4 linked regions of the Homo sapiens genome follow. The protein of the gene in region 2 purifies or fractionates together with the protein of the main gene of each other region. This does not show direct contact. Each region holds a gene or a part of one and is shown on either strand. Other genes may lie near its edges.

Region 1 (3,500 bases), on a different chromosome or scaffold from region 2:
ACACAGCTTCCTTCTACCCTTCCACAGTCTAATCCTACATCTGTCTTGGCTTCTATCAATCTATTCTTGCACAGTCTTTGCTTAGGCCTTTCCCTCTATCTAGGCACTAGCTATTTACCCTTACCCCTCCACATGTCTCACTTGCTATTTTTTGTCACACTTTATACTCCCTTAGAAATCTGAATCCATGTTTTTAAATGAGAAAATAAGTTTAAAACTAATTTTCTAACTCCTGATTTACGGACTTTCACAATGCACTTTCCCCCAAATGTGGTGGCTGATGGAGTGCTTTCTCTGTTGGGGTTTTTACTTCATTGTGGCAAGTTCCTCAAATAGTGTTCCCCTGTACATTGGGACCAAAGAAATAGGGATAAATTCCAACTCAGCTTCTCAAGTAAGCAATTTACCATGTTTTTCTTATTTCTTATATATGATTCAAAAATAAATTCCTAATTTAGTTTAAAAGTTTACTGGCTTGTCTCATGTCAGAAGATTTTTCCTGGTCACAACAGATTCACAATTAGTACTTTTCTTATGGAAATTCAACAAATGTGTTGGCGGTGGACTGCGGTGGGAAAGAGAAATAATAAATATTACAGGTAATTCTGTCCACCACTGCACTCAAGTGAGCAGAACTGTGTGAGATGGGAATCTCAAGTTCATGAGGCTGGTCTCAGTTCCTCCATGAGTGATCTCATAATGTTAGCATCTCACTGAGCTCGGTGGCTTTTATTTTAAAAGAGACAGCACACATAGTTTTCATGAAACATCACCCCTATACCTACCTATAAGTAAGCTAATTCCTTCATTAGGTGGCTAGTGAAAGAAATGATCAACATTCAAGAAGAGACTGGTTGCTCTGGACTCGCGGAAAAAGTTTCTCAGTTGCCATATTGTGCTTCTCCTTTCTAGGGCACTCTCAAAGTTAATTTTGATTATATACGCAATTTCGCTATTCTACAGAAGTGTGAGTGATAAAGGGAGCTATATGGGTCTGACAAAATGTTTGCTTTGCTGTTTTCTTCCTTCATAAGATATAAAAAAAAAATTAGTATCAAGTGTTTTTGGATAACCGGAAGCAACATTACAAACAAAAGAGCTATGAAGCTTCTTACTTAAGTAGGAACTGGGTCATTGGTTATAACATTTTAAAAGAAAGGTGTTACTAAGTCAAAGACAAATAGGCAAAAGCCAAGACCACGTAGTGGAGAACTTCAGCAAGCTTTGTCAAAGAAAGTAGGGCACAGGAAGAAATTTGTCAAGTCTTGAGGCACCTGGGTTAGAGAAGGTCCTGGAAAAGGTGGCAGCTGCTCGCTGGGTAGAGTACCTGCTGGAAGTTCAGTACCCACTGGCAGCACCTACAGACAACAAAGGGAAAATCAAGTCCGTGAGACGCTAAATATAAAGACTGCGTACTGAAGAGCAAATCAACTAATTTGAATGCACAAACATAAGAATAAAATATATATAGTTAAGACATGTTTATCACTGAGGTTACTCTCTGGTATCTGTCTTAAAAAAACGGTGTGACAACTAATGTTGTTATTATAGGGGTTACTACGATATACCTATAAAATGAATAGTAAAATACAGTAAAAAGTTGTCCCCTAGGGAGAACAGAACAAAGGCTATATGTACATAAGTGGCAGTGTCCAGATATTCTTGAGCTACTTATTTGGTACAGTATGTATCAGACTTTCGCCATGTAAAACAAGATTTTCTGAGAAAAGAAAACAGTAACTGGTTAAGAAATAACCAATGGGCAGGTCTGATAACAAAAGGCATCAGAAATCTAATACTATTATCAAGAATTTCTATTTTATCTGAGTGAAGATTCTGCATTATCCTACTATAAAAAGAACCTCACATCAATGGCAATGCAGAAAGAGGCTGAAGCATACAATACAGTAGACGTAACACAGCCTTGTTATTTGGAGAAGGTGGCAGAACAAGAGGAAATCCACCACAGCATAATTAGATAATAAATTTTAGTTACTTCAGTCCTAGGATTAGATTATTTATTTCTCCTCTGTATCAATTTCCTTACTAACTTCCAATTTTTTATAACCCCCAAACTGTACAACTGTGGAATCTACAACAAAACCAAAAATTTGCTTCATTCTCACTGAAACAAAGACTATGAACTGCTATTATTTACGTACATTTTGCTGACAGATGCATTTAGCTCCCTTTTGGGATACAGACTTCTTCAGTTTGTACCAATTCAGAAGAAATACCTGTATTTTACCCGATAATTATACCATCTTGGAAAACTGTGCAGCATAATTAACCCTAAAATCCTGCCACACTTGAAAAAAAAATCTCATGTTCATTGTAGATATACCCTCAAACTGCTGTCAATTTAATAAATACTATAAGCCAGGTACCTTTATAAATATGTTTCTAACTTACAAGGCTGAAGTGAAAAATGTACTCATTAGGGAGAAAAAAAACTGATCATATTTATCTAATTATTTTATAACAATAATTTTACCGGAGCCTTAGTTAGAGGTGGCTTGGAGGGAGCAGTTCCAGGTTTCACTCCTGATGTAGTAGTGCTGACTGGGGTAGAAACTTGCCCAGGTGTGACCACTGGTGTAACTGGCAAAGCAACTGTTCCTAGTGGTAAATTGGTTGGTGGTAAGCAAGTACTTGTGGTAGAAGTCAGGAGTTTGCTTGGTGCAACAGCAGTAGTTGGGATGCCTGGTGTGACAGTGCTCTCTATGACTAGTGAGGTCTCCAGTGAGACAGAGGCATGCTGAGCTCCAGATGAGCTGTGTTCACTGAACAGAGACCGCAGCTTTTCTTCTAGAGTCTTTATGTCATCAATTCCAGGAGCTTTGGGTTGTGTATCAGAATCTACTTCAGGACAATGAGTATGGGGCTGGTTGGGAAGCAAAGCTGGTTGAGGCTGACTATGAATTAGTGTCTGCTGTACAGCAGGCACATTGGCAACAGGCTGTACCAAGGGTGGGATACTAGGTACTTGGGGTAATAAAGGTGTAGAAGTAGGTCCTGCTGCTTGGGGAAGAATAGGAGTAGAAGCTATCACTGATGGAATGACCAAAGGATGCAGCCCACCAGGCTGAGAAATATAACTAGACACTCCTGCTCCAGGAGAGGAAGAGGAAGATGGTGCAGAGAGGGAGAAAGCCAATCCAGTTGTACTGCTATGAGATGTCTTATCTAGTGAGTGTGCGCTAACTACCACGGTTTCAGCTAAAGTAGGAGTAGAAGTACTGCTGCTAAGCTGAATGCACAGCTGTGAAGCTGTGCTTGGGAATGAAGTGGTGGTAGAAACTGATGTTAATGTGGCTCCCACAGTAGTGCTGCCTGCTGCCTGCTGAGATACTACAGCTGGAGGCTTAGGACCTGGGGTAGCAGTACTGCCCCCTGCAGAGGCTGAAGTTGCTGAAACTGTTACTGAAGGATACAGTGCTGTACTAGAAACAACGATCTCAGATGTGGATGTGGGGACTTGAAGTGACGGGGATGTAGTA
Region 2 (3,500 bases):
CGGCTCACCGCAACCTCTGCCTCCCAGGTTCAAGTGATTCTCCTGTCTCAGCCTCCTGAGTAGCTGGGATTACAGGCATGCGCCACCACACCTGGCTAACTTTGTATTTTTAGTAGAGACGGGTTTCTCCATGTTGGTCAGGCTGGTCTCGAATTCCTGACCTCAGGTGATCCACCGCCTCGGCCTCCCAAAGTGCTGGGATTACAGGCATGAGCCACTGTGCCCGGCCGGCTGTTTCTTGATAGACTGCTTTCCTGCTGTTAAAAATAATTTTATCATACTAAAAAACAAAACACTACATATTTGTTATAAGCAGCAATTTCAGAGAGAATGAATTTGGAAAGAGAAAGAAAATGTGACCTGAGCAATATTAGTTCATAGGAAAGATAAAAGTAACCTAATCAGTCACATTTTGACAATTTTTTAATAAACGAATGCAGTTAGTACATTCTCTATAATTGTCCACGTAAAATTAAATGCTTAATACCTTTTGAAGAATAAATTATTAGTTCCCATAACTAGACAGTTGGAATTACAGCAAAACAGTCATCCACAGAAGCTCTATTGTCCAGCGTTTAGAAATGTGAATACAAAGCAAACCCTAACTTGGCAATTACATATATATATTTATTTATAAGCATTTAGCTAAAATTTATTTAGTGAATAATTGAAACATACATAATTTGCCAATATAATGTAAGCTTGGATTTCCATATTCTAAAACTTTTGTTTTTCTAAATATTTCAAAGAAACTTATGTCTATAATTTAATATATTCAAGTATAGTTCCCTTTTCTCTTATGTATTAGCAACCAAACTGAATTTTAGGTGATCAAGCATAACATTTTATTGAAAGTATATGATGGAATTCACTACACTGTAAGACTAAAACCAGGAACAGTGCATCCATGAGTATAATGTATGTTGTGAATAATCACTATCAATGCCACTATATTCCCACATAAAAAGGCAAATAGCCCACTATTGATTTATTCTGCTAATTTCAACAATCATTGATCTTGAGGTACATGCCAAAAATGCCTGAATAAGCTTTGAAATGTAAAACAAAAATGTTTTAAAGAAGTTTAATTGCAGTTGGCCAATATATACTTAATATGGCTTGCATTTTTTTTTTTTTTTTTTTGAAATAACATTGTGACTTAAAGGATTTCTAGGTCCTAAAATCTGGAAAAGGGATCTGGAAAAATTTGGACTCCATGAGTAGTTTGGATTCAATCTCTCTGTGCTTTTTTTTTTCTTTATAACAGGAATGGGATGGGGGGTGGGGGGAATAAAACTTCTTATGCTATATAGGTCATGTACTGTGAGAAACAAGAATACAAAACTATGGGTTTAAAAACAACATATACAGAAATAATCGCCAATCTCTGTCTACCTCCACATCATTTTGTCATAGAAGTTCATTGTGATTAAAAAGTTTAAAAGTTTTTAAGAGAAAAGGTAGATTGAGAAGTAGAAAGGAAGTAGGAAGGAAATTGTGCAAAAAAAGAAACAGTTTATTAGATACTCTGACCCTGGGACACACTGTTCCTTTCCCCCAAAATATTTTCCGTGATAGGAACTGAATTTAAAATTATCACCTTGTTAGATTGCCTGAAGATCCAGCAACTAAAAACTTGATTAATGCACAACTTCCTTAAAAAATGCCAATTAACTATTAGCCACTGACAGAAAAATGTAAATTAATTTAATAAGATAGCTTTCCTTTCACCTTTTTAGCTGGAAATGTCTGTTCTGATAGAATGGATATCCTGATTTGGGGAAGAGGAAGAGGAAGGAACAAGGAGTAAGGATCACACAGAATCCTTCTGGGGATAGGGTAAATTTCGTTGATGGAGTATTGCTGTGAGGTGCTCAAATAAGATAGATAGCATGAAGGGGCTGGAAAGCCAGGAGAAAGAGAATGTACAGAATACCACAAATATGCTTTGCCCACTTTAAAGCCTAAGTTTTCTTGTGGGCCTTAGGGCCAAGATAAATGGTTGTTTTCCTTCTTCATATATGAAAGACCTCTATCTAGAAAATACTAGTCAATCTGTATGGAAGTTTCTCTGGGCAGTACTATTTTAACATGTTGTTCCAATGGGCAGACATTATAAATACCAAGCATCTGTTCTTAAGGTTGTGGGTTGCCTAAACATATGGAATCCCTTTGAGCCAAACAGAGGTGCTATCAAAATTGTTTTATTATATTGAATTACCAATGACAATAAATTACAAAAAACACTGTTTTAGACATTGCTGAGTCTAACAAAATAGGCTGAAGTTTGATCTTTGTGAAAGGACTTGAAACCATTGTTTTTTCCCACAAAAATCCCCATCACCAGCACTGCATTCGAATTTTCTTGAAAATTGTTTCCTGAGTTTATTCATGGTAGTATGTGCTTAAGGACAACAGGTTGTTAGTCTATTTGAGCAAACCTGATGTTTTCTCTAAGAAAAACAAATTCAATATCCTCCCCCTTCAAGAACAATAAAACCCCAAACTGTGCTATCATTAAATACTACCAAAAACCATTAACTAGAAAAACACAATGCAAAATCATTATTCAAGAACCCATTAGAAACCACAGTATTCTAAAGTCTTATAGAAAAGATGTGTTTTTACTAGTTAAGCATTGATAGAAGTCCCATCAAAAAAATGTTCAATCCAAATCTGCATTTTTGGCTATGGAGTTCTAGCCAAACTGGACAGGATTAGGCATCCTTACCTGGGCTCCTTCTACAAAATGACAGTATGTTTTGAAGCTCTCCCATATAATAAGGTTGCCCCCTACTACTGTGGTTAAGCTAGCATATTTGAGTTTTTCACTAGAAAACTCTCAAACAATTATCGGGTACATCCAGTAGCATACCTGTATCTTTTATACACTGTCAGTCCTCACTGGGTGATCAGAAATCATGCTGTTCATTGCTTAATTCTTATAGTGTTCCTTTTATGATAGGACTGTATGGCATGACCTTTCTGAGCAAGCTAATTTAAAATTAATTAAGACTGTCTACTTTTTAAAGCCATTGATTATAGAAAACCTGAAAGTTATTTTGTAATCATTTTTCATTTTCTGATTTCACTTCCCCTAATTTTATTACTTAAAATGCATCCATGGAAATAGTATCTCTGTCCTGAAAACTTCAACACCAAAATCACACCTCTGAGTTTGACTTATCGATTCTGATAGGAAGGCATAACAGCACTAGATAATGACAGAAGGAAAATAAGTCAGAATATATGCTTACAAACTGTTACATGCAAGTACATATAGTAATAAAGCAAATGAGAAAAAAAGCCAAAATGGAACATAAAAAGCCATAAGACATGATACCTAACTACTTCTAAGTAATTATTTTTCATGTGGCATAAATTGTTATTTAATCTCTTTCAATTATTTCCAAAAGATACCTCAAAATAAGAATACATACTTTAATATATCACACCCAGGAAACAGATATTTGTGCATGGGGTATAGATTATTTACATTA
Region 3 (3,500 bases), on a different chromosome or scaffold from region 2:
TTTTTTCTCAGAAAGAAGCTAACATTAATGTGTGCTGGGCACCGTCTGACAGCTTGGCTCTAACTCCAAGTAAGTTGCCCTTGTCTTCTAAGTACTCTACAGAGTGCAAAGGCTTACCAAATCCAAACCACCTTGAATTAAACAAATCTTAATGAGGAGCATCATCGTTCTTTGTATGAAAGTCTTTGTTATGTTACCAAATGAAGAAATGCAGTACATTACACCTCTATTGATGTAAATGAGGCTCAAACATCTCAATTCCATCCTCTTCCTACCCCCCAGCCATCAAACGTTATAACTGCTTAGTGACACTTTATTCAAATTACAACCCATAGTTTTTGCTCCAAAAAATGCAACACCTGAGAAAGGCCTGTTGCTTTAAAATCAAGAATCTATAAAAGCAATGCCACCCTAATCTTAAGGTGCTTCTTAGGTATTTCCCAAAGCTCTTTGCTCTTTTATACTGCAGCATTTTCAGGAGGAGTCATTAGATACTGTCAAGGTCCAAGAAATAACTAAAAACAAAAAATAACCTGAGACTCTTTTCTGCACCGCCACCAGCTGCCCAGTACACTAGGTCACCTTTTACAGCAGTGAGCACAGCAATCCATGCCACAAAAATCTTCGCAAAACAAGAAGGAAAGGTACAAAAAGAATTATATTAAAATGGTAACATACACTTGTATGAGGGAGGGATATTTAAAATTAAAATATTATCATCACAAGAAACACCAGATATTCCTTGCTCTGCCCTTGGGCAACCAAGAAACTTAAAGCCTGTTTTATATCCCAGAAATAAAAGAGAGACGTGATAGAAGTAACAGTGCTCAGTGCTTGCAACCCAAGTCAATTTATACTCTTGTTAGGTAAGTCCAAATTCTAAAGTCTACAAAAATCCTGTTAAATCAAGGGGAAAAAAAATTCATTTTAGGACAAAGTTATTCAAGATGAAAGGAAGGCATGTGTTCAGTGAGAGAACTGCCTGCTGTCAGATGATTTCTTGCTAATGTGTTTAAAGATTTTGGATTTCTCAACTTTCTTGGTTTTCTGGTAGCCAAATCCACCACCACCTCCTCGCTTTTTCTGCTTGCCTTCATTACTGTTGACGTCTGGAGGCAAACATTAAGGAAATCAAGCAAAAAAGATAATGAACTCCAATCTAACATCTACACAGAGAAAAAAACCGGCATGAACACTACTGTTCCTCCACAACCCCATTCTCAACAATGAAAATGTGGGAACATAAGCCTATGCAATAAATTTCCAGAAAATTAGGAGTGGCCACGTGACTGTGGACTTAAATTAGCAGGTATGATTTTAAACTTCGGTGTGTAATAGTCATATTAATTATTTCTTCCACACGATGAAATTCATGACAGTGAATAAGGATTTATGAGTTTAATCAGGAAGTTGGTAGGAGCACATTAAAAAAACACCTCCTGTGTCAAAACAAATGACTATCATTTCTCTTCGGAATTGATTTAGGAATGCCTAAGTGAAGGAGCTGCTCTTCCTTCCACAGGACTCGACATACATTCATTTCAGCTGACATTTACTCAATGCTGACAATGGGGATGGTGACCCAAAATTTGGTCCTCTAGTTCCCTCAGAAGTTACCCCTATGGCACTGAAGCACAGGCCTCATTTCAGCTGCTCAGTTTCTTCTTCTGAAAGGCACAAATTATAAATCACAACTGAAGCAACTGGAAGTACTCCTGCCTTTTATCTTAAGCAACACCTAAGTTTTATTTTCTTTTGCTGAACTTGCCACTTTCTTGCATAAAATCCTTCAGGGGTTCTAAGATGATTAAAACTCCTTGAAAGGTCCCATCCTCTCTTTAGCTTCAAAACACCCCATTCACCTAAGTACCCTGCACAGTGCAGCCTCAGCAAACACTGAAGTTTTGATTTTTTTAACCTGTGTTTCTGCCTGGAACACACAACTGTCTCTGTCTCTCCTTGACAGTCAAATTTCTTTGTCTTTTGAAGGCTCAAGGCATAAGCTGCCTTGTCCCTGTAACCCCATCCTAATGATTAAGCCCTGCTTACCCCATCCAACCTCTATGTCCTGTGCTAGCACAGAAAAGCAGACATCGACCAGGGTGAACACTGGAGCCTCCAGTCTGAGCCAGAACACATACCAATCCACTGCAAAGCCCCAAATGCCCCTCTGTCAAGCTTTTGTTCCTTAGTCACAGGATAACTTCATTAAAGAAAAGGATACTCAGATCAACGAAGGGAGGCACCTTGAAACCAAATGACAGAGCAACCTGAGGCAAATTTAGGTTATTAACATTAAAGATCTGTTTCAGAGAATGGGAATCATAGGCTCGTATGTATGACTTATATGCTTCCTGGGCTGACTTATGAAGAAAGTAATTCTTTTCAATCAATTTCTCAAGCTGAAATAGAAAGAAACACTGGTTTTAATAAACAAAAACAAACAAAAACCTCCAAAACACCAGATTTTAAATATCCTAGAGCAAAGCCACTCCATGGAAAACATTTAAAGAGGGCACAGAGTGGTGATAACTAGAATAGCAAGAAACCTTATACACTACACAGCCTGATCCTCACTTTAGGACAGGGTAGACTTCAAAGGACAGTGATTGCCCAGTGAATCACTACAAACAGAGTGCTGGGACAAGGTTCCTGTTTACTCACAAACGTTTAAAAAGCACATACCTGAGACTGAATGTCAGAAATTTTAGACCAGGAAAAGTCAAATTCACTTAATGGAACCTAGAAATCAAAAGTATTAAGATTAGTAAACCAGGATGATCAGCATTCCGATACTGGGTACTGAAGACAGGGAAGGATGAACCGGCCTATGAAATTCCCTCAGGACAGAAAGGAAAATCTGCTTTTTCTAGTCTCCCAATGTTGATGGGAAAGTTACATCTTTGCTCTGCTGAGTTAGGCAATCTGCACTTCTTTCTTTCTGAAAGGCAAGGAACTGGATAGGGACACAGTCAGTAAAGCACTTTTCTGTAAGAATCTCTATAATCCTGACTATTTGCAACCATGAATCAGCTTGAAGCTTCTAGTCAGAAGGGCCATCAGCCCCTTTTCTCCATGTCAGAAGAGGGGCCCTAATACCCCCACAGTCCTGTATTGAGGCTTGTGACACTGGAGGCCATGATGACCACAAACTCCTACAGGATGGATCTGCCATCAGTTATCACTCATTAGATAACTAGAAAAGCAACAGGCCTGTGCCAGGTGCTAGAGAGAAAATAGGTACCTAACTCATGGACTCTGCCCTCAGAGAGCTTGCCGTCTTGAGGGGGAGAAAGATAAGTAATGAAATGTCAACCTGTAGATTCTGGATATTAGCCCTTTGTCAGATAGGTAGATTGCAAAAATTTTCTCCCATTCTGTAGGTTGCCTGTTCACTCTGATGGTAGTTTCTTTTGCTGTGCAGAAGCTCTTTAATTAGATCCCATTTGTCAATTTTGGCTAGGACTAATATCCAGAATCTACTAAGAACTTAAACAAAT
Region 4 (2,965 bases), on a different chromosome or scaffold from region 2:
ACATACACGATATAGAATGTTTATCTTCCCCTTCATCCAAACCTATAAGAAAAAGCAAACGACCTTCCATGTGTTCCTTAAGGATAAGAGGTAAGTCAAATAATCAAATTCTTAACGGAGATGCCTCAAAGTAATTATTCTGGTGAATCTCAGAATGATGGACGGAAGCATACAGGGCACTGTCAGTAAAGGATGAGAATGTTACGTAAGTACTAAAAGGTATAAGGTCAGAGTAATTTCTGTTGGGTAGGCCTAACTAAAAAGTTCAAGAGTGGGTTCTTGCCCTGCCTGCACCTATTACAGTCCATGTCACAGGGTAGGTACTCAAAACATGGGTACTACATAAATGAGTTTTTTCCAGATACTGGATATCTGGCAAATATCTAAAAGCTTAATACATGGCAGAAAATAAGAAAACACCTATTCCTTCCTCACAGGATCAAAATATAATAATAAAAAGATGTTTTATAAATTTTGTCTGAATACACACTTGAGATACGTTATTGTTAGAAGAGAATACTTTATTTTGAAATAAAATACAAATGTGCAAAGGAAATTAGCTCCTCCTGCCCCCCCTTTGAACAATGAGTCAATAGAATGTGAGACTGGGTAGATTAGCAGATAATAGGCAAAGGTCTAGCTTTTCAGTGGCAACTTGAAGAAACCAAAGATGAATGATGCTAAAGGAATGACCCTTTGGTACCTGTTTTAAAGTACTTCTGGCCCCCTTCTTTTATAAACCCCCAGGAGCCCAGCACCACACCTTGTTACCCTACAATGATCACTCACGCTCCACGATGTCACTAATGTAATAACTGAAGATATGGGCCAGTTTGTCCATGTCACGTTCCGACTTGTAGGTCAGGGTGAACCTGTCCATTAATGCTGTAAACCCTGACCAACAAAGCAGAAATTACGATGTTAACTCCAAATCCTAAACTTTTTGGCCCCTTTCTCCCCACACATCAGGCCAGTGTAAAGGAAACAGATCCCTTCAAGCTGAGTAATTCCTTTATCCATTAACATGGTGTAACTTAGAAACTACTAAGGGCCAGGTTGGTTGCTGCTGCCACTGGGAATCCAAAGGACCACCCTCTCTGCTTCCAAGAGCTGGAGATGGTGCCCTTTTCATCTGGAGCCAGCTCTTTCCCCTACTCTCTTAGGCTGCCTAGCTATGGGAAACAATAGGATCCCTCCTCATGTCTGGCTAGAGAACCACTCACACAGTGAGGACAGGCACCTGGTATTACCCATCTTCATATCCCTGACACAGAGTAAGTATTTGTTAAATGAACGACTCGCGGAGTGGCTGCTAGATAGCTACGGCCAGAACAACGGCGGGCATATACTTATGACGCCAAGAACGAATTAACTGAACGAATAAAATAATTGAAACAGAACGCTTAATAGAAAATGCTCGGGGTTGGGAAAAACGGGTTCAAAGCCCGGGGCGTGGTCCTGTAAAAATCCTTTCCTCTGAGTTTCAATTTCATCATCTTTGGGGTGAGCTCAAGGACTGAGCCGGTTCATCCCAAAAGATGTCCTCCCACGCTAAAACGAAGATACTCAAAGTTTCCTAAGGAAGCCGCAGCACGAAGTTAAACTGTGCCTTAGCTCGCGGGAGGCTAGGCCTGTAACCGTCGAGGCCTCCAGGGGCTTAGACCCAACGGCCGCCTCTCCCGCAGGCCAGGAGACTTAAGTGCAAGTGCCGGCCGTCGCCCTCACCCGTCACATGGACGCCTAGGAGGACGCCCTGGGCCGTGGCGAGCTCGGGTTCCCATCCCCGAGGCTTCCGAAAGACCAGTAGGTCGGGAAGCAGCGCCGCCAAGCGGGCCTCCACAGGCCACAGAGGCGGCGTCGCATGCCGCTCGCCGGTCACCATGGCTGCCCGCCTAGGTACCGGAAACAGGGCCCAGCCGCGTAGCAGCCAATCCGCCTAGCAGGCTCTATTGGAGGCCTGCCGCCGATCAATCCGCGCAGGCTTCCTTGGGACAACGCCAATCGGAAGCGACTTCAGTCGCCGCCCCACCACCTTCCCACATTCTTAGCGGGGCCTACTTCCCCGGGGAGAAGGGGCTGGAGGTGCGGCGGTCTGCGCTTTCAAAGGAGCAAAGCTGTCTTTTCTACTGGAAACGGGGGAGGCGAAGACGCTCCTACGATAAAGCCGTTGGTGTGAGATAAATATCGAGAGGTCTTTCCCTCATACCACAGAGTAGAATCTTGGGTCATCTCTGAATTTGGTAAGGACAGGTTCCACTGGCATAAATCTAAGCCAAACTCAAGCACAGTTTGACTAAAGCTATCAAATACTGTCAGTGCTTTTCCTTCATTGTGGAGAGTTTCTCCTCTCTCATCTGCCAGGGCAGGTCTACTGCTCTCATCATTGAGTGCTTCCTCGGGCTGTTTGTCTCTTGTGTGTTGATAATGGCATATCGGAGGCTTCTAGTCTTTGTTGCTTAGATTCCCAGCGACCGTAAGGTAAAACAGTAACAAGGTGAGCATGCTGTGGATTTTTAACAATCAGAAAAGTACTTTTGTTTTGGTCTTCTGCCAAAACAAAATCTAACAAAACGTAAATAGTACATCTTCACTACCTGAAATTCTACAATACTTAAGGCTGTTTTTGTGATAACGGCTAATTTTCCTCATGGAATTACTTCATCACATTTTGATAAACACTTTCAGTAGTAGCATCAAATGTATGATCAGCCTGCAGGTGACAGAAAAAATCTCCTCAACAGGGTGGAAGGGCCAAAAGGGAAGAAATTAAGGGGAGATAAAGCTAAGAGGCTCAGACATTACAAGTTTGATACTGTTTACAGAGACACCGTCCATGCAGACAAGTCTTGTCGGGGGAGATCAAAATTTCAACACTGGAAACACAAACTAGAACCCAGGAGTTGCAGATTCCTCAAAAGTCACATTACTTTTCGGTTATTTTTATAAATTTATTTTAAAAAATAAC

The links. Proteins that work in one complex are often made in the same cells at the same time.
Region 1: the proteins of RPS6KA6 (region 2) and WNK1 purify together in Homo sapiens (affinity purification with mass spectrometry; one large-scale study listed by BioGRID and IntAct). This does not show direct contact.
Region 3: the proteins of RPS6KA6 (region 2) and DDX18 purify together in Homo sapiens (affinity purification with mass spectrometry; one large-scale study listed by BioGRID and IntAct). This does not show direct contact.
Region 4: the proteins of RPS6KA6 (region 2) and NFYA fractionate together in Homo sapiens (co-fractionation; one large-scale study listed by BioGRID). This does not show direct contact.

Annotation. Positions count from the first base shown.
Region 1 is NC_000012.12:885,079-888,578, reverse strand, and holds part of WNK1 (serine/threonine-protein kinase WNK1), read right to left. Parts: coding exon 2,495-3,500; intron 1,359-2,494; coding exon 1,275-1,358; intron 1-1,274. UniProt on the Homo sapiens protein: Serine/threonine-protein kinase component of the WNK1-SPAK/OSR1 kinase cascade, which acts as a key regulator of blood pressure and regulatory volume increase by promoting ion influx.
Region 2 is NC_000023.11:84,059,200-84,062,699, forward strand, and holds part of RPS6KA6 (ribosomal protein S6 kinase alpha-6), read right to left. Parts: 3' UTR 1-3,500. UniProt on the Homo sapiens protein: Constitutively active serine/threonine-protein kinase that exhibits growth-factor-independent kinase activity and that may participate in p53/TP53-dependent cell growth arrest signaling and play an inhibitory role during embryogenesis.
Region 3 is NC_000002.12:117,828,191-117,831,690, reverse strand, and holds part of DDX18 (ATP-dependent RNA helicase DDX18), read right to left. Parts: intron 2,743-3,500; coding exon 2,686-2,742; intron 2,403-2,685; coding exon 2,225-2,402; intron 1,110-2,224; coding exon 967-1,109; 3' UTR 1-966. UniProt on the Homo sapiens protein: ATP-dependent RNA helicase that plays a role in the regulation of R-loop homeostasis in both endogenous R-loop-prone regions and at sites of DNA damage.
Region 4 is NC_000006.12:41,099,939-41,102,903, reverse strand, and holds the end of NFYA (nuclear transcription factor Y subunit alpha), read right to left. Parts: 3' UTR 501-2,965; downstream 1-500. UniProt on the Homo sapiens protein: Component of the sequence-specific heterotrimeric transcription factor (NF-Y) which specifically recognizes a 5'-CCAAT-3' box motif found in the promoters of its target genes.